Linked DNA regions of Homo sapiens. The protein of the gene in region 3 purifies or fractionates together with the protein of the main gene of each other region. This does not show direct contact. Each region holds a gene or a part of one and is shown on either strand. Other genes may lie near its edges.

Region 1 (7,311 bases), on a different chromosome or scaffold from region 3:
GCAGCAGAAGTCTGACCTGAGGCTTTGGGGTAAGAACAATGCCTGGCTCCTGGGGTCTTGGGGAAGCTAACGCCCATTTCCTTATGCACGAAACATAAATGATTAGTCCCTCGGCTTTCTAAGAATTACAGCAAATGATAGTTAAAATCTTTAACACCAAAGACTTGACTTATAGACACTAAAAAAAAAAAACAAAAAAAACAAGAAACTACATAAACTAACACAATTATTGGGCTTACACATATACACCAGTGAGAAGACAAATACGTGGACTTACAACTACTTCCCAGTACAAAAGGTCCATTTCTTCATTTTTAATAGAGCTGGTATTATTACGTTACTGAAATTACACAAACCTCCAATTTATTAAAACGCATGTCCACTCATGATTCTACTTTCTACTTTTTAACTCCCATGGAGAATGAAAAAACAATTTTAAATCCATAAAAGCATTTTTTAAAATTTTATTTTATTTTTTTGAGACAGAGTCTCGCTTTGTCTCCCAGGCTGGAGTGCAGTGGTGTGATCTCGGCTAACTGCAACGCCCGCCTCCCAGGTTCAAGCGATTCTCCTGCCTCAGCCTCCGCAGTAGCTGGAACTACAGACGGCCCCGTGCCACCATGCCCAGCTAATTTTTTGTATTTTAAGTAGAGATGGGGTTTTGCAATGTTGCCCAGGCTGGTCTCAAACTCCTGAGCTCAGGCAATCTGCCCAACCTCAGCCTCCCAAGGTGTTAAGACTACAGGTGTGAGCCACCGTGCCCAGCCACATGGGCCCCATAAAAGCATCTTAAGTGTGATGTATATTAAAGCCCAGATTCCACACCTAGATATCTAATACACAGGAGACTGAGTTACAGCACATCCAAACAAGGAATCCTATGCTGCTGTGTCAGTGATAATGAAAATGAATATTTCTGTGAGGAAGAACTTCACACTCTTTTGTTGTTAAGAAACGGGTGTGGTGGCTCATGCCTGTAATCCCAGCACTTTGGGAGGCTAACGCAGGTGGATCACTTGAGGCCAGGAGTTCGAGACCAGCCTGGCCAACATGGTGAAACCCTGTCTCTACTAAAAATACAAAAACTAGGTGGGCATGTTGGTGCACACCTGTAAACCCAACTACTTGGGAGGCTAAGGCACAAGAATCGCTTGAACCTGGGAGGTGGAGATTGCAGTGTTTCTGTCTCAAATAAAAAAGGGCCGGGCGCAGTGGCTCACGCCTGTAATCCCAGCACTTTGGGAGGCCGAGACGGGCGAATCACGAGGTCAGGAGATCGAGACCATCCTGGCTAACACGGTGAAACCCCGTCTCTACCAAAAATACAAAAAATTAGCCCAGCGTGGTGGTGGGCACCTGTAGTCCCAGCTACTCGGGAGGCTGAGGCAGGAGAATGGCGTGAACCCGGGAGGCGGAGTTTGCACTGAGCGGAGATCGCACCACTGCACTCCAGTCTGGGAGACAGAGCGAGACTCCGTCTCAAAAAAAAAAATAAAAATAAATAAAAAAATAAAAAAGTTAGATATAGCATGTAAAGTTGTATATGTGTATATACACATATTGACAAATATATATCACAATGCTGATGTTTAAGATAATTTTAAGTGACTTCTTTGTGTATGTTTTTATTGACATATCGTACTTGTACATATTTTCGGGGTACGTGTGATATTTTGATACATGTATATAATGTGTAATGACCAAATCACAGTCATTGGACGGGCCCAGTGGCTCATGCCTATAATCCCAGCACTCTGGGAGGCTGAGGCAGGCCCATCATTTGAGGTTGGGAGTTCGAGACCAGCCTGACCAACATGGTGAAACCCCAACTCTACTAAACATACAAAAAAATTGGCCGGGCATGGTGGCGCATGCCTATAGTCCCAACTATTCAGGAGGCTGAGGCAGGAGAATCGCTTGAACCCGGGAGGCAGAAGTTGCAGTGAGCTGAGATCAGGCCACTGCACTCCAGCCTGGGCAACAGAGAGAGACTCCCATCTCAAAAAAACAAAAAGAACAAAACAAAACAAAACAAAACAAACAAATCACAGTAATTGAAATATCTGTAACCTTAAACATTTACCTTTTCTTTCTATTTTATAGAGACAGAGTCTCATTCTGTGACCCACGCTGGAGTGCAGTGGCCCAATCATAGCTCACTGCAATCTCGAATCCTGGACTCAAGGGATCCTTTTATACCACAGCCTCCCGAGCACCTGGGACTAGAGGTACATGCTACCAAGCCTGAATAATTATTTTTTTGTAGGAACAAGGTCTCACTATGCTGCCCGGGCTGGTCTAGAACTCCTGGCCTCAAGTGATCCTCCCACCTCAGCCTCCCAAAAGCGCAGGGATTATAGGCCTGAGCCACTGCACCTGGCTCCATTTACTTTTTCTTTGTATTGGGAACAGTACAATTCTCTTCCAGCTCTTCTGAAATACACCATAAATTGTTCTAACTATAATTTCCCTACTGTACTATCAAATATTAGAATTTATTCCTTCTACCTTATTTCTGTACCAATTAACCAACTTGTCTTCAACCCCTCTCCCTCGCTTTAAGTGTTTTCTTTTTGCTTACTTATGGCTTCTGAATTTCTATACCTTAAATATGTATTACTTTTGGAAATAACAAAAAAAGGTTAAGCTGGGCTCAGTGGCTCACGCCTGTAATCCTAGCACTTTGGGAGGCCGAGGTGGGCGGATCAACAGATGGCCAAGAGTTTGAGATCAGCCTGGCCAACAAGGCTCTACTAAAAATACAAAAATTAGTTGGACATGGTGGTGTGTGCCTGTAATCCCAGCTACTGGGGAGGCTGAGACGGGAGAATCACTGGAACCTGGGAAGCGGAGGCTGCAGTGAGCCAAGATGGCGCCACTGCACTCCAGCCTGGATGACAAAGCAAGACTCCGTCACAAAAAAAAGAAAAAAAGGTTGTTATATTCTAGGCTGGGTACAGTGACTCACACCTGTAATCCCAGCACTTTCAGGAGCTGAGGCGGGCAGATCACTTGAGGTCAGGAGTTCGAGACCAGCCTGGCCAACATGGTGAAACCCGGTCTCTACTAAAAACAGAAAAATTAGCTGGAAAAAAAAAAAAATAATAATAATAAAAAAAAGAAAAATTAGCTGGGCATGGTGGCACAAGCCTGTAATCCCAGCTACTCAGGAGGCTGTGGCAAGAGAATCGCTTGAACCCGGGAGGCAGACGTCACAGTAGGCCAAGATCACGCCACTGCACGCCCACCTGGGTGACAGAGCAATACTCCGCCTCAAAAAAATTAAAAAGGTAGTCCAGGCGCGGTGGCTCACGCCTATAACCCAGCAGTTTGGGAGGCTGAGGCGGGCAGATCACCTGACGTCGGGAGTTTGAGACCAGCCTGACCAACATGGAGAAAACCCATCTCTACTAAAAAAAAAAAAAAAAAAATTAGCCAGGCGTGGTGGCACATGCCTGTAATCCCAGCTACTTGGGAGGCCAAGGCAGGAGAATCGCTTGAATGCAAGAGGCAGAGGTTGTGGTGAGCCAAGATCACACAATTGCACTCCAGCCTGGGGAACAAGAGTGAAACTCCATCTCAAAAAAAAAAAAGGTTATTATATTCTTCAGAAAGAGGCATGCCTATTTATGATCTCAAACTAGCAGGAAAAGCTTCAATAAACAAACAAACCAAAAAAAACCCTGTATCAAAATGATTCAACTCAATTGTCAATTGTCCAGGTATTGGAGCATCCAAATAAGTTCAACTACAAGATACTTCTGAAAAACTATTTTTATTGGATTTATGTATAATTATAAATATAACTTATTCTATTATTCAACATTTCTCAACAACAACAACAAAAAAAAGGAAGAAATTAGATCAGCAAAGCTCTTTGTAGAAAAAAAAAAAAAAAACACCTTTTTTTTTGGAGTGGGGGACGGAGTCTCACTGTGTTGCCCAGGCTGGAGTGCAATGGCATGACCTTGGCTCACCGTGACCTCCGCCTCCCGGGTTCAAGTGATTCTCCTGCCTCAGCCTCCTGAGTATCTGAGATTATAGGCGCCCACCACCCCACCCGGCTAATTTTTGTATTTTCAGTAGAGATGACGTTTCACCATGTTGGCCAGGCTGGTCTTGAACACCTGACCTCAAGTGATCTGCTCGCCTCAGCCTCCCATCGTGCTGGGATTACAGGCATGAGCCACCATGTCCAGCAAAAAATACCAATTTTTTTTTTTTTTTTTTTGAGACAGAGTCTTCCTGTCGCCCAGGCTGGAGTGCAGTGTCACAATCTGGCTCACTGCAACCTCCGCTTCCAGGGTTCAAGCAATTCTCCTGCCTCAGCCTCCTGAGTAGCTGGGATTACAGGCACCCTCCACCATGCCCGGCTAATTTTTGTATTTTTAGTAGAGATGGGGCTTCACCATGTTGGCCAGGCTGGTCTTAAACTCCTGACCTCAGGTGATCCGCCCACCTCGGCCACCCAAAGTGCTGGGATTATAGGCACGAGCCACCATGCCTGGCCAAAAACACCTATTCTATTCTTAAAATTATCTCGAACCTCAGTTCCTGTGGAAAAGAAGTTTTTTGGGTTTTTTGTTTTGTTTTTTGAGACAGCATCTCACTTTGTCACCCAGGCTACAGTGCAGTGGCAAGATCATGGCTCACTACAGTCTCGACTTCCTGGGCTCAAGCAATCCTCATACCTCAGCCTCCTGAGTAGCTGAAACTACAGGCACATGCCACTATACTCAGTTAATTCTTAAGATTTTGTAGAGACAGGGTCTGACTATGTTGTCAGGCTGGTTTGGAACTCCTGGACTCAAGCAATCCATCCGATTCAGCCTCCCGAAGTGTTAGGATTACAGGTGTGGGCCACCATACGTGGCCAAGAAGCTTCTTTTAATGCTGACAAATTAAGGTCATTTCCCAACTAAGATACTAAAGTGAAGAGATTCTTTTCTTTCGTGGAGGGGGTACAGAATCTTCCTCTGCCACCCAGGCTGGAGTGCAGTGATACAATCTTGACTCAACTGCAACCTCTGCCTCCTGGGTTAACGTAATTCTGCTGCCTCAGCCTCCCGAGTAGCTAGGATTACACCAGCTACTCAACACCACGCCCAGCTAATTTTTGTATTTTTAGTAGAGACGGGGTTTTACCATGTTGGCCATGCTAGTCTCGAATGCCTGATCTCAAGTGATCCGCCCGCCTCAGCCTCCCAAAGTGCTGGGATTACACGCATGAGCAACCATACCAGGCTGAGATTCTTCTTGTTTGGAGGCTGGGGTACTCTCCAGATATACAATCTTTTTTTTTTTTTTTTGAGATGGAGTCTTGCTCTGTCTCCTAGGCTGGAGTGCAGTGGCGCGATCTCGGCTCACTGCAAGCTCTGCCTCCCGGGTTCGTGCCATTCTCCTGCCTCAGCCTCCCAAGTAGCTGCGACTACAGGTGCCCACCACCACGCCCGGCTAATATTTTTGTATTTTTAGTAGAGACGGGGTTTCACCATGTTAGCCAGGATGGTCTCGATCTCCTGACCTTGTGATCCACCCGCCTCGGCCTCCCAAAGTGCTGGGATTACAGGTGTGAGCCACCGCGCCCAGCCTTTTTTTTTTTTTTTGAGATTGAGTCTCACTTTCGCCCAGGCTGGAATGCTGTGGCACAATGATCTTGGCTCCCTCCCAGGTTCAAGCAATTCTCCTGCCTCAGCCTCCCAACTAGCTTCGGTTACAGGCGTGCACCACCATGCCTAGCTAATATTTGTATTTTTAGTAGAGGTGAAGTTTCAACATTTTGGCCAGACTGTTCTCGAATTCCTGATCTCAGGTGATCTGCCCATCTCGGCCTCCCAAAGTGCTGGGATTACAGGCGTGAGCCACAGTGCCCGGCCAGATATACAATCTTTAAATTAAATGGATGATATATATGTAATACCATAAGCCCCCAAACTAATGCTTTTTCTTACTTAGTGTGTAAAGATGTGTTTTCTTATCAGTAAAATAGGTCTTCAGATCTGCATCTGGCCTCTTAGCATGTTTTTCTTCATAGATACCCGTTTTGGGGTTTTTGTGTCGGAAGATGAAGTGCAGTTTATAGTCCTCTCCACATTTATCTGGACCAAACATAATCGTATAAGGGGTCTTGTCATGGAACTGATCCTTCAAAAACAAAAAAGGATTATTTGAAGTCACTGTACTCAAAGTGTTCAAAAGCAACGTTTCAAAAGTGTATGATAATTCCTCTTATAAAATTCCAAATATATTAGTGACAGTTAAAGGAAAAGCTAACTACAAGTTTGTTTAGTAAAAAGGAATAACCAGCAATCATCAGTAAATTTAAAATAACGTTTAAGTGTCTAAAAAAAAGTAATGCACACATCTAGACAGTTATTGCTTCCTCATAAAACAAAGAAATAAGCTTGCCAAAACTAAAACTTACACAGAAGCAAAACCAGAAATTCAGATAAAAACAGTTGGTAACAACTTTGTAATTTACACTTCAAATAAAAAGCACGTTAGCGTCAAAGTCAATTTTCCCAACTCATCAAAAGAGTTAAACAGCAGGGGAGGAAGCCTTTATTTTCACAATTATTACAAAATTCTCTTTTTTTTTTTTTTGAGATGGAGTCTCGCTCTGTCGCCCAGGCTGGAGTGCAGTGGCGCAATCTCGGCTCACTGCAAGTTCCGCCTCCCAGGTTCATGCCATTCTCCTGCCTCAGCCTCCCAAGTGGCTGGGACTACAGGCGCCTGCCACCACGCCTGGCTAATTTTTTGTATTTTTAGTAGAGATGGGGTTTCACCATGTTAGCCAGATAGTCTCAATCTCCTGACCTCGTGATCCGCCTGCCTTGGCTTCCCAAAGTGCTGGGAGCTAGGATTACAGGCGTGAGCCACTGCACCCGGCCCAATTACAAAATTCTTACAAGGTAATAGTGGGTGTCCAGCCACATTCCAGAAATGGGAATTACATACCAGGTTGAGTTCTGGTGTTTTAGAAAGCAGTTTCACATAGGCACCACCACATTCTATTCCATTTTGGAAATTAACCTCATACCTAATATCAGAGAGAAAAGCAGAAAACTGTATGGCATTTTGAAAGATCGAAACTCTCTTAATGTATTTCCTCTCTCCCTCATCTTAGTCACGTTTTATCATAGGTCAAATGTTTACCCTTACAAAGGATTCCATCTTCTATTGTTTTTGAATAGTTATCAAATGCCACAAAAATAAATAAAATTAAATTGAACATTAATGCAGATTTCCAGTAAATTTGTTCTGCAAAATCTACAAGTTATTTAGAGTCAGGAAAATGAGTAACCAGTTTCT
Region 2 (7,519 bases), on a different chromosome or scaffold from region 3:
GACCTCATTTCCGACTAAGGAAAAGTTGAACTCTCTCCATTTTTTCCACCTTATGAACCCAACAAAAAGAGCAAAGAGGAATATAATCAGGGAGTTTATCTTAATGAAAGCTGATGGCTTCAATATCTTTTTTCCCACAGTTTAATTGCTTTAGGCATTTATTATTAGCTATGATTAACGCAGAAAGAAGGGACAAAAAGCTCACAAACACTATACAATTTCACAAGATGCATTGCAGGGGGAAAAGTGACTGAGATGGATCAGCAATATCCCAGGGTCTTGGTGGATGCATTCCTGGTGGAAAGGGTCTCATTCCTGGAGGGGGCATGCCTACTGGCGTCCCTCTAGCAAGGGGAAGCCCAATTGGTGGGCCCATGGGTGGTTTCATACCAGGTGGAGGAAACATAATGCCTAGAGGTGGGGCTGCTCTGCCAACAGGTGGGGGTGGAGCCCCCGGTCCTGGTGGGTACTGTGTTGGGGCTCCAGTAATGCTCTTCTCTGTGGAGTCATTACCTGCTGGGATGGTCCCCCAACTCCTGGGACGGGGCCTGCTAATCCACCAGGAGCCTGGGGAATTGGTACACCAGCTGATACTCCTCTACCAGCTGCCCTAACAACTCCAGGGCCTCCTGCAGCTCCAGCAAGTGGTACCCGAGCAATGCCAGTATATTTTGGGGGTAGCCCCTCCACAGTCATGGATACCAAGTTCTCCCCATGCAGCAACACCAGACCCCAAAAGTGCTTTTCTTCGAGCTCTGGTTGCTTCACGTTCTTTGGCTTGATCTTTCTGAACTCATCACAATCGCAGAGGATCAAATTCACATGCTTGTCAAACGCCTTAAAGATGCCAAAGAAGATTGTGCCTTCCTGTAGGATGCATTTCATTCTATAGTCAATGTGCTGCTGCAGCCTTGCTACTCGTGCCCACAGTCGTGATTGCTGCTTCACCAAATCCCGTGTCCACAGTTAAAACTTCGTGCTTCTTAAGACCTGGGGGAAAGCTATAGATAAAGGTATGGTGCAGGTTCTCCCAGAAACAATGCAAGCTGAGGGGGAAACGTGGTGGCTCACGCCTGTAATCCCAACACTTTGGGAGGCTGAGGAGGGCAAATCACCTGAAGTCAGGAGTTCGAGAGCAGCCTGGCCAACATGGTGAAATCCCATCTCTACTAAAAATACAAAAATTAGCTGGGTGGTAGTGGCATGCACCTGTAATCCCAGATACTCAGGAGGCTGAGACAGGAGAATCGCTTGAGCTAGGGAGGCGGAGGTTGAGGTGAGTCAAGATGGCATCACTGTACTCCAATCTGAGTGACAGAGTGAGGTGCTGTCTCAAAAATATATGTATAATTTTTAAAAGTATATTGAAAGCATTGGGTGAGGTGGCTCATGCCTGTAATCCCAACACTTTGGGAGACCAAACTGGGAGGATCCCTTGAGGCCAGGAGTTTGAGACCAGCTTGGGCAACAGCAGGACCCTGTCTCTACAGAAAAATAAAAAATATTAGCTGGGTGTGGTGCGTGCCTGTAGTCACAGTTATTCAGGAGACTGAGGTGGGAGGATCACTTGAGCCCAGGAGTTGAAGCCTGCAGTGAGTTAGGATGGTGTGCCACTGCACTCCAGTCTGGACCACAGGCTGAGACCATGTTTTTTTAAAAAAATAAAAAATAGATAATGGATCGATTGATAGAGAAAGCTCACTCTGTGATGAACCTGTTCCGAGTATCCTCATAACAACTTTTTGAGGAAGGAAGAAATTGGAACACACCTGTGGTTAAACAAGTTGAGTTTATCACTTGTTATGGGGTAAGGGTGAGAGGACATGAATCATGAGAAACAATAGGGCAGCTGGGCTTGGTGGTTCACATCTGTAATCCCAGCACTGTAGAAGCCCAAGGTGGGAGGAACACCTTAGGTCAGGAGTTCGAGACCAGCCTGGCCAACATGGTGAAACCCTGTCCCTACTAAAAATACAAAAATTAGCCGGGAGTGATGGTGGGCGCCTGTAATCCCAGCTACTTGGGAGGCTGAGGCAGAAGAATCACTTGAACCCAGGAGGCAGAGGCTGCAGTGAGCCGAGATCACACCACTGCACTCCAGCCTGAGTGATAGAGTGATACTCTGTCTCAAAAACAAACAAACAAACAAACAAACAAACAAAGGGGCATCTCAGTAACAAAGTGTTACAAAGGACACATAGGATTTGGGCTTGCATTAGGTGATTTGGACGAGGGCTTAAGAAAATGGGGTTTTCTGGATTGGATGCTGCCTATGAGTGAGTACCTTGATAAACATTATTTAGAAGGAGGGAAGAGTAGACCGAGGCTAAATCTATAATCTCTATACAAGCCAGAATAGGGAAATGTTTGGCCATTTTTGTAGTTCGAACAATGCTCATGTTTTGTCTGGGTTTAGACATGATTCAAGTGGTTTTGTTATTGTCTTGATCCATCATGGTCACATAGTGGCTTTGTTTGATGTTGATGTTCTGTGAAGTTTTTATGTTCAATAAGAGAACACACCAAGGTCTATTTGTGAGTGCCAGACCATCTCCTGGATGTCAGGGGCTGTTTTTCTCTTAGCGCTTGGTTTCAAATCCAGGTTTGTGTGACTGGAAACATCCCTTGTATTACTTCTTGATCACAGGAACTTGCAAAGGTGGCTGGCAGACTAGGACTTTCATCTATGAGCTTATTTCATCTACTATTTTTTATTTTTTTTTCTGAGATGGAGTTTCACTCTTGTCGCCCAGGCTGGAGTGCAATGGCACGATCTTGGCTCACTATAACCTCTGTCTCCTGGGTTCAGGCAATTCTCCAGCCTCAGCCTCCCAAGTAGCCGGGATTACAGGTGCCCGCCACCACGCCTGGCTAATTTTTGTATTTTTAGTAGAGATGAGTTTCACCATGTTGGCCAGGCTGGTCTCGAACTCCTAACCTCAGGTGATCTGCCTGCCTCGACCTCCCAAAGTGCTGGTATTATAGGCGTGAGCCACCGCGCCGGCCTTTATCTACTATGTTCACCTCCTACTCAGGTCCGATCCCTAACCGTTCCTGGGATAACTGTAGGTACTTAATAAATGCTTGTTGAATGAATGAAGATGGCTGTCAAGAACTCCAATGACTGCTTGAGTGCAAATCACAAGCTCCATCACCTATCAGTATGTGATTTGATACAATATGTATTAACAGCTAATCCACAATCCATATTCAAATTTCATTACTTGTCCCAATATTGTCCATTACAACTATTCCACCACCACCACTACCCCAGTCCAGGGTCCTATTTAGAATCACACACCACATTTTGTTGTCATGCTTCTTTAGTCTCCTTTAAACTGGAACAGTTCCTCAGCTTTTCTCTGTTTTTCATGACAATGAGTTATTTTGTAGACAGTGTCCTTCATTTGGGGTTCTCTAGCACTTCCTCATGAGATGTGTACGGTGCACTTTTGACAGAAATACCACAGATGTGTTCTCAGTGCATTTTATTAGGAGGCCCTTGATCTGACCCATTAACTAGTGGTGTTAACTTTGATCACTTTGATCTGTTTGTTCTGCTAGGTTAAACCTCTGTAACATCACCATTTTCCCTTTGTAATCAATAGCTAATTTATGGGAGACACTTTTGCTGTTGTAAACATCCCGTTTCTCTAGTTTTACCACACATTATTGATTTCCTAATTCCACCATGTTTATTAGCTAGCATTCTACTAAAAGGAAGACTTTCCCTTCACCCATTAATATGCTCACTTCTTTATGTTTGTAAAGACTCATGGATTACTATTTTATTCAATTAGTTATACTCTATTACTATCACTCCATATTTTGATTCTGAAATTGCCCTGACTTGGCCAGTAAGATCTCCTTAAAGACAGCTCCTGTGTTCTTTGACACATTCCCATGATTCTTATTACCATCATCCTTATATTCTGGTGTAACAAGATGTTCCAAGTTTATCTGGTACTTTCCGGAATGAGTTAGTTCTTTCTCTCTCTCTTTTTTTTTTTTTTTTTTGACGGAGTCTCACTCTGACGCCCAGGCTAGAGTGCAGTGGTGCGATCTCAGCTCACTGCAACCTCCGCCTCCCGGGTTCAAGCGATTATCCTGCCTCAGCCTCCCGAGTAGCTGGGATTACAGGTGTGCGCCACCACGACCGGCTACTTTTTGTATTTTGAGTACAGAGGGGTTTCACCATTTTGGCCAGGCTGGTCTCGAACTCCTGACCTCAAGTGATCCATCCGCCGCGGCCTCCCAAACTGCTGGAATTACAGGTGGGAGCCACCGCGCCCGGCCGGAATCAGTTTTTTTCTTTTAGGAGCCCCGAACCCAAAGCTCTTTGAAAAGCTGCCGAAGCTCCAAGGTTCCTCCGCTTCCTGCCCGCAGGCGGAACCTTAGAGCTTCAGCCATGGAAATTAACCTCTTCCGGTTGGGGCCGGAAGTCCCTCCGAGAGGGGCGGCTCCGCGTCATGTGACTGGAGTCCGCGTAGGAGGGGTCGGAGGTCTTACCCAACAGATTGACGCGGCGTTAGTATTGGCCGTGTACCCGAAAAACTGATTGACTGGGCTGGCGTTAACTGTGCGGAGGCAGGTATGTGAGGGGCTGGGGTTGGGGCGGGGGCGCCAAAGTTTAGGGACGGGGGCGGGAGACCCGGGTCCGCCTTCCCAGGACACACGGGCTTGAACATCTGAGCCCAGGGGCCCAGAGACAGCAAGACCGGTCGTGTCTGTCCCCGAAAAGAGGACGAGCTGGCGTTGTGGTTCTGCGTCCCATGAATACAGATTGGGGAAACTGAGGCCTTGCGAAAGAGAAGGGCTCCCACAAGCTCTCCTTTCGAGGCATGGGCACTGATTCCCATTCTATCCCCCGTGCGAGACCGCCTCTATCATCTGGGAGTGCATTTCACGAGTTTGCCCTGAGTGGAGAAGCAGAGGCCGGGGAGCGCGGTGAACAGAGTTGGGCTGAAAGTAAGAGACCTGGATTCGAGACTTCGCCACCGACAGACAATTGTGCGTTCTGGGCCAAATCTCTTCCCTGTGCTGGGCCTCAGTTTTCTCGTCTCTAAAACGGGGCAGTGTTTTTCAAAATATGGTTCTTACACCATCTGCTTTGTAATTCTCTGAGATGCCGGCTTTACAGCGCGGGACTCAATTCAGACTTCTGGTTTAGAATCTGAACTTATGCGTAGGGGGGTCCTGTATATACTAATGTTTGAAGCTCATTGATTTTAAGTGCTTTCCTGCTGTGAGCACTAGATATCCATTCTTCGCTTTGAGGCAGCTGGTGCCAGTTCAGGAACTTTGAAAGAACTGGAATGGTTAGCTCAGTAAAGAGAGCACTGGAAGGGAATTAACTTTTTAAAAATTGAAAATACTGTTACGGCAAAGAGGGCTTCCACTTCATCTTTAGGCTAAAAGAGGCAGAACTAGGACTAACAGGTGAATTCTACAGGAAGGCAAGATTTTTGCTTAATAGAAGAACTTAAATGGAAGAATCGTCAGAGGTGACCACCGATGGAGTGAATGGATTGCCTCCGTGCCTCCTTTCGAGGGAGGTATATAGGTATTAGATGAAGGTCCTTTCCAACTTGAAAGTCTGTGATTCCAAGGAGTTGTTCTGCATCTTTCTGGTGCTGACTCTGCTCTCAAGGCAAATGTGACTTTTTTCTTCTCTTTTGACACTTCCATCACTTTAGCCTACATCTCCTGTAAATAAGGCCAATGCATCTGACCTTACATAATCTCTTCCTGGTTGTCCTGTGCACCATCCTTCTTTTCAAGGACTTTGGAATGACCCAATATCTGATAGAGGCACCTTAAATGTTTATTGAATGAATAAGTAAACTGGGTCCCACCCCATGGGTTAGTAGCTTTTTTCTAAGAACAAGTTGGAAATGCCTCTGAAGATTTTATGTTTGACCAGGAGAAGCCAGTGAACTCTGAATCACAAAATTGAGGACTCTCAGTTGAAAGCACCCCTTGAGGTTGTTCAGACCAGCCTTCTCTTCCCTGGAACATAATCCCTGCTTGAATCCTCTCTTCAGCAATATGTGTATAGATGTGAGAGAATTTTTGCAGTCTGTTGGCTAGCTTTCCATGCATCATATAAAAACAGTCCTCTTATAGACTTGACTTGCCAGTTCACACACATGACAAGTTCCAGCTTTTTTTTTTTTTTTTTTGAGTATTTAGTAGAGATGGGGTTTCACCATGTTGGCCAGGCTGGTCTCGAACTCCTGACCTCAAGTGATCCGCCTGCCTCAGCCTCCCAAAGTGCTGGGATTTCAGGTGTAAGCCACTGTGCCTGGCCTCTAGCATACCTTTGGTTTTCTAATCAAACATTATTATGTCCTTATTTTGTGCATTACAAAGCTCTGCCTAAATCACTTTTTCAACACCTGCTAGAATGCTTAGGAATGTTTATGTTGTCTTAGGGAGCAGAGGCTCCATATTATGACCCAGTTCTGCTGACTTGCTCCCCCGCCGCCACAAAAGTTAGGGTTGAGCCAAAACTTCCTGCCAGTTATCGACTTGTGTTTCCCAAGATTAAAAAATAAAAAAGTTGTGAAATGCTTATTCAGATGTTATCCAGGTACTGGGTAAAATGATCTTAATTTGTTGGAGTTTTTAGAACTTCTCGATCTAAAAGTTTCCTTTTAAAGAAGTGTCTGAATTGACATTCTCATAAGTATGTTCTTCAGGCCACTGGTCTGAAGAAGTGGCTCTGAAAAAAGGATTTGATGCTAATAATAAGTTTGAGAAAGCCACATACCATTATTCTTTCTTGGAGCTTCTCAATGTGTAATACCACATTAAAACCACTGAGAGGTCCTGCAATAAGGAAATGTGCCTTATAAGCCAAGATAATAACTTGTTCCATTTGTTTAATCTACTTGATGTCAAATCTTTTTTTTTTTTTTAATTGAAGCACACGTTAGCAAATTCTGACCTAGAGTGGGGATCTGCATACTATATATAGGCTGTGAACCAAACCTGGACCTACTGCTTGTTTATATGGTCTGTGAGCTAAGGGTGCTTTTTACATTTTTCTTTCTTTTTTTTTTTTTTTTAAGACGGAGTCTCGCTCTGTTGCCCAGGCTGGAATGCAGTGGCTCCATCTCAGCTCACTGCAAGCTCCGCCTCCTGGGTTCATGCCATTCTCCTGCCTCAGCCTCCCGAATAGCTGGGACTACAGGCGCCCACCCCGATGACTGGCTAATTTTTTGTATTTTTAGTAGAGGTAGGGTTTCACTGTGTTAGCCAGGATGGTCTTGATCTCCTGACCTCGTGATCTGCCCGCCTCAGCCTCCCAAGGTGCTGGGATTACAGGCGTGAGCCACCACGTCTGGCCTGCTTTTTACATTTTTAAATGATGGGAAATAAAAGAAGAATAATATTACATAGGTGACAATTACAGGAAGATAAAATTTCAGTGTTCATTTCAGTCACACCCATTTATTTATATTCATATATATTTACATATTGTCTTTGGGTGCTTTAATGCTACTCAGTGGAGTTG
Region 3 (7,311 bases):
TTGTGGTTTGAATCTTTCTACTGTCAGAGGAGACCCACTAAAAACCAGAATCTGCATAAAGCTTTCTTTACTTAACACACTGAAGCTATAGGTGAGCCATCCCATGTCAGACTTTATACTCAAAGAAGGAAAAGCCAAGTTGCAGTGAGCGGGTAAGACAGCTCAGATCCGAATGAAAATGGGGTCTGAATAAGTAACCCAAGGGAGCTGCCCTCTAGTCGGGCAGCTAGTATTGCTTCCTTGCATGGATACATAGGAGGGATACATTATAGATTAATAAATGATAGTGAGATAAACAAAATGATCTGTTGTGTATCTTTTACTTTACATTTGCTATTTACAGAGGAGTGTTGTATACATAGGTATTATTTTATGTCACACTGCTTCAGTGATAACTATATCCATGTGTTTGTATCCATGTTTTTATCCATTCAACTGTATTAAAAGGTGTTGGGACAGGAAAAAAAGTTGTATTACTAAGTACACACAAAGAGGTTCTTCAGGTAAACTTCAAAGTATTAGATAATACTTTAATAACATGGGCAAAGAGGATGCGGCAGAGTAAGAAGTGATGAAAATTATGCAGCTTCATGTTTAAAGTCTGGGCTATAAGAGTCCTGAGAGAAGGAAAGTATAGAAGAACCTTCTGAGTTGAAGGGCCAGGACTAGAGACATGAGCTCCTCCTTTATGGATATGACAGATTCTAAGCCAAGTAGTGCTTGCTAGCAAGACTGAGATGTAAAAATAAAAAAGTTTCAAAGCAAATATATTTCCCCAGCTCCTCCATACAAGCAGCTGTACTTCACTAAGCTACCAAGTTTAGCTGTAAGAAAGTAAGAAGTTTGCTAATGAAAAACAACTTTGTATTTTAATTTCCTCTTCAGGGACATTAGGGATCCTTTGTCTTTTTTCAGTGCTTTGAAATGTTCATGTAATGTCACAAGTCCTAAGACAATGGCTAGAGAAAATTAATATTTTATAAAATTCTATTAGTTTGAGGTTAAAAAGAAAAATCAACGGCAAATTTACCAACTTTTTCTTAAAAGCACAGTGAATCCAAAACAGATAAAAGACTACAAACCCTATAAAATGAATTTAGATTCATTTTCTACTGCAGAAACATTAAAAGTAATTTGGATGATTTCCTAAATCTTAAATGGTGCAAAAGGCGGTTTGCTTAATTATGATTGCTGGCGATGTGGATGAGTCCTCCTGTCTGCTATGAAAAATGTTCTTGCTCAGGGTCCCTTTTATGAAGATTCCTGGGAAAAATCATTTTCCAGTCCTAGTGTCAAGAACAGTTATACTATTGGTTAAAAATTCATTTACTTTTGGCATTGGCTATTAGAGAATTTCTGGCAGTGAGTTTAAACAGAATACTTGACTGCAAACAAGTTATAACAGTTACCCAACTGTGTCCTTCCTTTGCTGCTAAGTCAGGTTGCCTTTACTTTGAAAAAGGTAAAAAGGACAAAACATATCTACTTAGGCACGTGGAATCTTTTTGTTTAAAGTGTTTTTCTATTCGTTGCTACAGGTACAGAGTAAAAAAATAATAATCACAAAGGTTCTGAGAACTGGAAGGAGCTATGGTTCTCATCTCACTTCTAGAATTAACTATGAATCATGTCTTTTTCATCACCCATTCCTGGGGGCCCTCCATTCAGTGTTGCATGGTGAGAAGAATGCTGAAGAGCCAGGAGAGGAAGGCTCCTGTTTCAGCCCCACTACTAATTGGCATCTGGCTCTGTGACTTTCTTGCTTTGGGTCACAGTACCCTCAGCTTAAAATGAGGATGCTGGTCTGGACAATCTCTAAGGTTCTTCTAGAATGGACCTTGTCTTCATTATAGAATGATAGTTTAGGAACAGTGGGAACACATTTCCACTCCAGCCTCTGATTGAGGCCAGAAGTGAATACTCTACTCCACTATGGTCCCTGTGCCCAAAGCTCCAGCCCTCTAAGGATCTTGTTGCATAGCTATCAGCATTCTCCATGAACTCCTTTGTGACCAGCTCCTGAGCACAAGATTCTTTAACATTTCCTGTCCATAAGTGACCATCACACCCTGCAGGCAGCCAGGCTTTAGGCAGTGGAGAGACGCGGGGTTCCAGGAACCCTGCTTAAGCACGGCATGCTCAGGAGAGACTTTCTTACCAAACAGCTCAATGTAGACCTCTTGAAGCGTGTGCACACTGCAGAACTGGTTCAGTTCGTGGTGGATCTTGTTGAAGATGAGGGCCTTGTCATAGTCAGCAGTATAGTTCTTCACTATATCATACACTGAGAGGGAAGGAGAGGGCTTGGCATAAGAAAAGGCAAGACTCAAAATGCCCTCAGACACGGCAGCTCTCCTTTTCCAAGGTGCTACAACAGACACGGGAGTGGCATGCTGGGGAAAGTGAGCTGGTGGTGGGAATAAACTGTTAAGACGTACCTGCGTTCGGGACCAGGAAGTTCACCACTTCAATTCTGTCAAAGTAGATCATCACACCACCACTATTGGAGGGAGAATGGACAAGAAGTCACTGGGAAGCCTTAGAATATGGTGCAGTCCCCCAGGGTGATGGCGTAAGATGTGGGGCTTGGCAGAAAAGGAGTAGAAGAGTTCACGGGAAGTTGGAAGGCAGCTTGGATCTCCAAGTGGGAGGTTCTGCAGGGCTCATGGCAACAACATACTCTCCTGAGAAATCACACTGCCTAGGAACATCTCTACAAAGACATGAATGAGACTTTTGGGGACCAGTACGAAAGAGTAACTCATATCTTTGGAATCAGCAATGCCTTTTGATTAATCAGTTGCACGGAAAAGACTAAGGAGGGTCAAGGTGAAGTTTTCAGAACTTAGAAGGTTACTGTGGAATGTTATGATCAATGTTTCTTAAACTGTCTTCACTATTACTTTGGTGTCACACTCCCTTTGCCCTCAAATATTTATTATAAAAAGATTTCAAACATAGAGAAGCCGAAAGAGTAGTATAACTAACATCCATATCCAGATACCTGAATTCAACACTGATAACATTTTACCTTATTTATTGACCTTTTTTTTTTCTGAACATTTCAAAGTAAGCTGCAGTTAGGATACTTTACTCCTTTACTTTGGTGAGCACTGTCTTAAGAATAATCATTCTCCTACACACTCATGGTATCATTCCCAAGCCTAAGAAAATTAGCAATAATTCTGTAATATCACCTAATACCCAGTCCTTATTCAGATTTCCCCAACAGTTTGTGTTATGGACTGACCTGTGTATGCCTCGCCCCCAGATTCATATGTTGAAGCCCTAACCCCCAATGTGACTGTATTTGGAGATTAGACCTTTAAGAAGGTAATTAAGGTTAAACAGGTCATAAGGGTGGGCTGTAATCCAAAAGGTCTGGTATCCACCAAAGACCTTTTTCTCTCTTCTTGCACATACAGAGGAAAGGCCTTGTGAGGATGTGACAAAAAGGTGGTCACCTGCAAGCCAGAAAGAGAGGTCTCACCAAAACTACCCCTGCTGTTACCCGGATCTTGGACTTTGGGCCTTCAGAATGGTGAGAAAATATCTATTATTTTAGTCCCTTGGTGTGTAGTCCTCTGTCATGGCAGCCTGAGTGGACTCATATAGTTTCTGTCGTATCTGTTATAGCTGTTAATTTTGAACCAGGTTCTAATCAATGCTCACCCTTGCTTCTGTTTATGTTTCTTGTAAGTCTCTGTCCAATCCAGCATCCCTCTAAATACAACCACTTTGTGAAGAGATCAGGCCTGCGATCTTGTGGGATGTTCCAATTCCGGATTTGTCAGAGTGTTTCTTTGTGGTATTCTTTGTCACTCTATCCCAGTTTAAACTGTCTTTGCTTTCCAGTGGGACCGCTGTAGCAGTGTTCTCTTCGGATCTCTTTGCCCTGAAGGTCTCCCCTACCTTTATGACATTCTCTTTAGTTATGCAAGTTATCTTCTTGTATCAGGTCATTTATCTGCTAAAAACCTTTGTGCATCCTCACTTCTTTTTTTGTTTTTAACGTTAAAATTTTATTTTATTTTCCATTGTTTAAATTCAGAGGTACATGTGCAGGATGTGCAGGTTTGTTACATAGGTAAACGTGTGCCATGGTGGTTTGCTGCTCAGATCATCCCATCACCCAAGTATTAAGCTCAGCATCTATTAGCTATTCTTCCTGATGCTCTCCCTCTCCCCACCCCCTATCCACTGACAGGCCCCAGTGTGTGTTGTTCCCCTCCATGTGTCCATGTGTTCTCATCATTCAGTTCCCACTTATAAGTGAGAACATGTGGTGTTTGGTTTTCTGTTCCTGCATTAGTTTGCTGAGGATAATGGCTTCCAGCTCCATCCATGTCCCGTGCAAAGGACATGATCTTGTTCCTTTTTATGGCTGCATAGTATTCCATAGTATATATGTATCACATTTTCTTTATCCTGTCTATCGTTGATGGGCATTTGGGTTGATTCCATGTCTTTGTTATTGTGACTAGTGATCCTCACTTCTTTTTTTTTTTTTTTTTAAAGACGGAGTCTCACTCTGTCGCCAGGCTGGAGTGCAATTGTGTGATCTTGGCTCACTGCAATCTCTGCCTCCCAGGTTCAAGTCATTCCCCTGCCTCAGCCTCCCGAGTAGCTGGGACTACATGCATGCACCACCACACCCAGCTAATTTTTGTATTTTAGTAGAGACGGGGTTTCACCATGTTGGCCAGGATGGTCTCGATATCCTGACCTCATGATCCACCTGCCTCAGCCTCCCAAAGTGCTGGGATTACAGGTGTGAGCCACCGCGCCCGGCCGATCCTCACTTCTAATAGAGTAAGTGCAAACTCCTTATCACATACAGCATTCTAGCCCCTCCTGAACCTTCTATGATTTCCTCTACTGCACTCCATCACCTGGTCAAATCAATATAGGGAGCTACGAGACAGGGAATTAACCAAGAAAGGGTGCCTCCCTTTTCACTGTCTCTTCCTGCAACCAGCCAGACAGCCTTTTCTCTGACTTATTTGGGCTTAAAAGCTTTATTCTGGGTACCTTACCTAGTCCCACAAGGTACATTCTTCACCTCATCTGTCTGGAGTGTGGTCTGGAAACAGAGGAAACATAAAGTGCTAGAAGATGGGCAGTGACAAAGTAACTTACTTTTCAGAATCCTAAATGCCTTTGTCCTGGAATAACTGTTTGGGTTGAGCATGGCCTTCATTAAACATGATTACCCCACCTAATCCTCCTTCCTCACAGGGTTGCTAAGCCAAGTAAAGGCCCGTGCCCCAGCCTCACTATAAGTGAACCACCACATCAACAAGCTGAGTAATAATGGTTTAGTGAAGATGACACTGGATTGGGCATCTTAAGACTTGTGCTTGCTTCTACCTCTTCTATTTATGTTAGGCACCGCTTTATGTTCGAAGGCCCCCAGTGGATGCTTGAAACCGGGGAGAGTACCAAACCCTATAACACATACCTATGATAAAGTTTAATTTATAAATTAGGTACAGTAAGTGATCAACAATAATAAAATAGAACAATTATAACAATATACTGTCATAAAAGTTATTTGAAGGTGGTCTCTCTCTCTCTCTCTCAAAATATCTTATTGTACTGTAGTCACCTGTTTTCAGACCATGGTTTATTGTGGGTAACTGAGCCTGTGGAAAGTGAAATAGTGGATAAGGGGGAGGGCTGTTGTACTAGTTTTGAAACAGCAGATTACCTATTTAACCTGTCTCAGACCCTAGCACATGCTCAGCCCATTCTCAGGATTACTACAAGACTCAAATGAGACAATGTACCTGAATGCAGTTTGAAAGCCACAAAGCCTGGTAAACAGCACATGAAACTTACAGGGAAAATGCCTAGCAGGTATCCCAAGACATTCTCCTGGGTCAGTGTAAAGTGTAAAATCTTGTTATTCTTCTTAGCTGGACATACTTCAGAGATGGCAAGTCCAACTTAGCCAGGCTTTAGATCTGCCACAACTAACCTCACTCCTATTTTAGATGTCACCTCCCCTCACTTAGTTTAACTCCTCCCCACTCACTGCAAAAATTATGTTCGTATTTCTGAATTCAAATAAGAATCAGCAAAATTACTATGTTTTCTTTCCATTTAACATGGTAGCCTGTGATTTAAAACATACACACATAAACCCTGACTTTTCTTTCCATATACTCAGAACAGGTTCTTCTCTGGCTTTATCTTGAAGGAATAATCCCCAGCCTCATTTTATATATATATAGTGTATGTGTGTATATATATATATATTATATATATATAATATGTATATATTATCCTTATATCATTCTCTAGAATGGCATTTTACTCATCCAATGGCTAAATAATTTCAAATCATGCACTAGTTAACAGCCCAAGTTTGCAGTCGTCCAGCCATACCACAGAGGCCAAGCATACCTGCACAGACTTATATGATGTGATGAAAGGGAGCATGAGATGGAAACCAGGGCCGCTGGTCGAAGTCAGCAGGGCACCGCCTCTGCAGAGGAGGGGGAAGAGAGAGGCAGCTTCAGTTTGGCAAGAAGGCTCTGTTAGATCAATATCATGAGGGTCAACTTTCCCTTCAGCCCTATAAACATATAATAGAGAGTGACATGTGCTGCAGCCATGGCTACAGATCCCTTTCTTCCTCTCAGCTAGATCCTAATATTCTAGGAAGCCTGATGGTAAAACATAAAACTATTGTTCATGCTTTTGCAAGGAGAAAAATAGGCACATAGGCTAAATGGAATAAAGACAGCAGAACCCACTAGTGCAGTCCCAGCGCTTTGCGGGGCTGAGGTGAGAGGATTGCATGAACTCAGGAGTTTGAGACCAACCTGTCTCAAATAGTGAGACCCTGTCTCTACAAAAAAAGAAAAGGAAAAAAATTAGCTGAGTGTGGTGGTTGTATGCCTATAGTCCCAGCTACTTGGGAGGCTGAGATGTAAGAATTGCTTGAGCCTGGGAGGTTGAGGATGTAGTGAGACATAATTGTGCCACTGCACTCCAGCTTGGGCAACAAAGTGAGACTCTGTCTAAAAAAAAAAAAGAAAAAGACAGCAGAATCCATGGGTATACTTAGATAAGAGAAAGTCTGGCCAGGCGCGGTGGCTCACGCCTGTGATCTTTGGGAGGCTGAGGTGAGTGGATTATTAGGTCAGGAGTTCAAGACCAGCCTGGCCAACATGGTGAAACCTCGTCTCTACTAAAAATACAAAAATTAGCCAGGCGTGGTGGCAGGCACCTGTAATCCCAGCTACTTAGGAGGCTGAGGCAGAGAATTGCTTGAACCTGGGAGGCGGAGGTTGCAGTGAACCA

Evidence for each region. Proteins that work in one complex are often made in the same cells at the same time.
Region 1: the proteins of ERLIN2 (region 3) and CANX purify together in Homo sapiens (affinity purification with mass spectrometry; 4 studies listed by BioGRID and IntAct, with this or other methods). This does not show direct contact.
Region 2: the proteins of ERLIN2 (region 3) and RNF185 purify together in Homo sapiens (affinity purification with mass spectrometry; 5 studies listed by BioGRID and IntAct, with this or other methods). This does not show direct contact.

What each region holds. Positions count from the first base shown.
Region 1 is NC_000005.10:179,708,706-179,716,016, reverse strand, and holds part of CANX (calnexin isoform d precursor), read right to left. Parts: intron 7,040-7,311; coding exon 6,958-7,039; intron 6,145-6,957; coding exon 5,952-6,144; intron 119-5,951; coding exon of another isoform or gene 17-118; intron 1-16. UniProt on the Homo sapiens protein: Calcium-binding protein that interacts with newly synthesized monoglucosylated glycoproteins in the endoplasmic reticulum. It may act in assisting protein assembly and/or in the retention within the ER of unassembled protein subunits.
Region 2 is NC_000022.11:31,155,713-31,163,231, forward strand, and holds the start of RNF185 (E3 ubiquitin-protein ligase RNF185), read left to right. Parts: upstream 1-4,469; 5' UTR 4,470-4,591; intron 4,592-7,519. UniProt on the Homo sapiens protein: E3 ubiquitin-protein ligase that regulates selective mitochondrial autophagy by mediating 'Lys-63'-linked polyubiquitination of BNIP1.
Region 3 is NC_000008.11:37,739,544-37,746,854, reverse strand, and holds part of ERLIN2 (erlin-2), read right to left. Parts: intron 6,491-7,311; coding exon 6,409-6,490; intron 5,084-6,408; coding exon 5,037-5,083; intron 2,501-5,036; coding exon 2,439-2,500; intron 2,285-2,438; coding exon 2,159-2,284; intron 1,287-2,158; coding exon of another isoform or gene 1,252-1,286; exon of another isoform or gene 305-1,251; intron 302-304; exon of another isoform or gene 1-301. UniProt on the Homo sapiens protein: Component of the ERLIN1/ERLIN2 complex which mediates the endoplasmic reticulum-associated degradation (ERAD) of inositol 1,4,5-trisphosphate receptors (IP3Rs) such as ITPR1.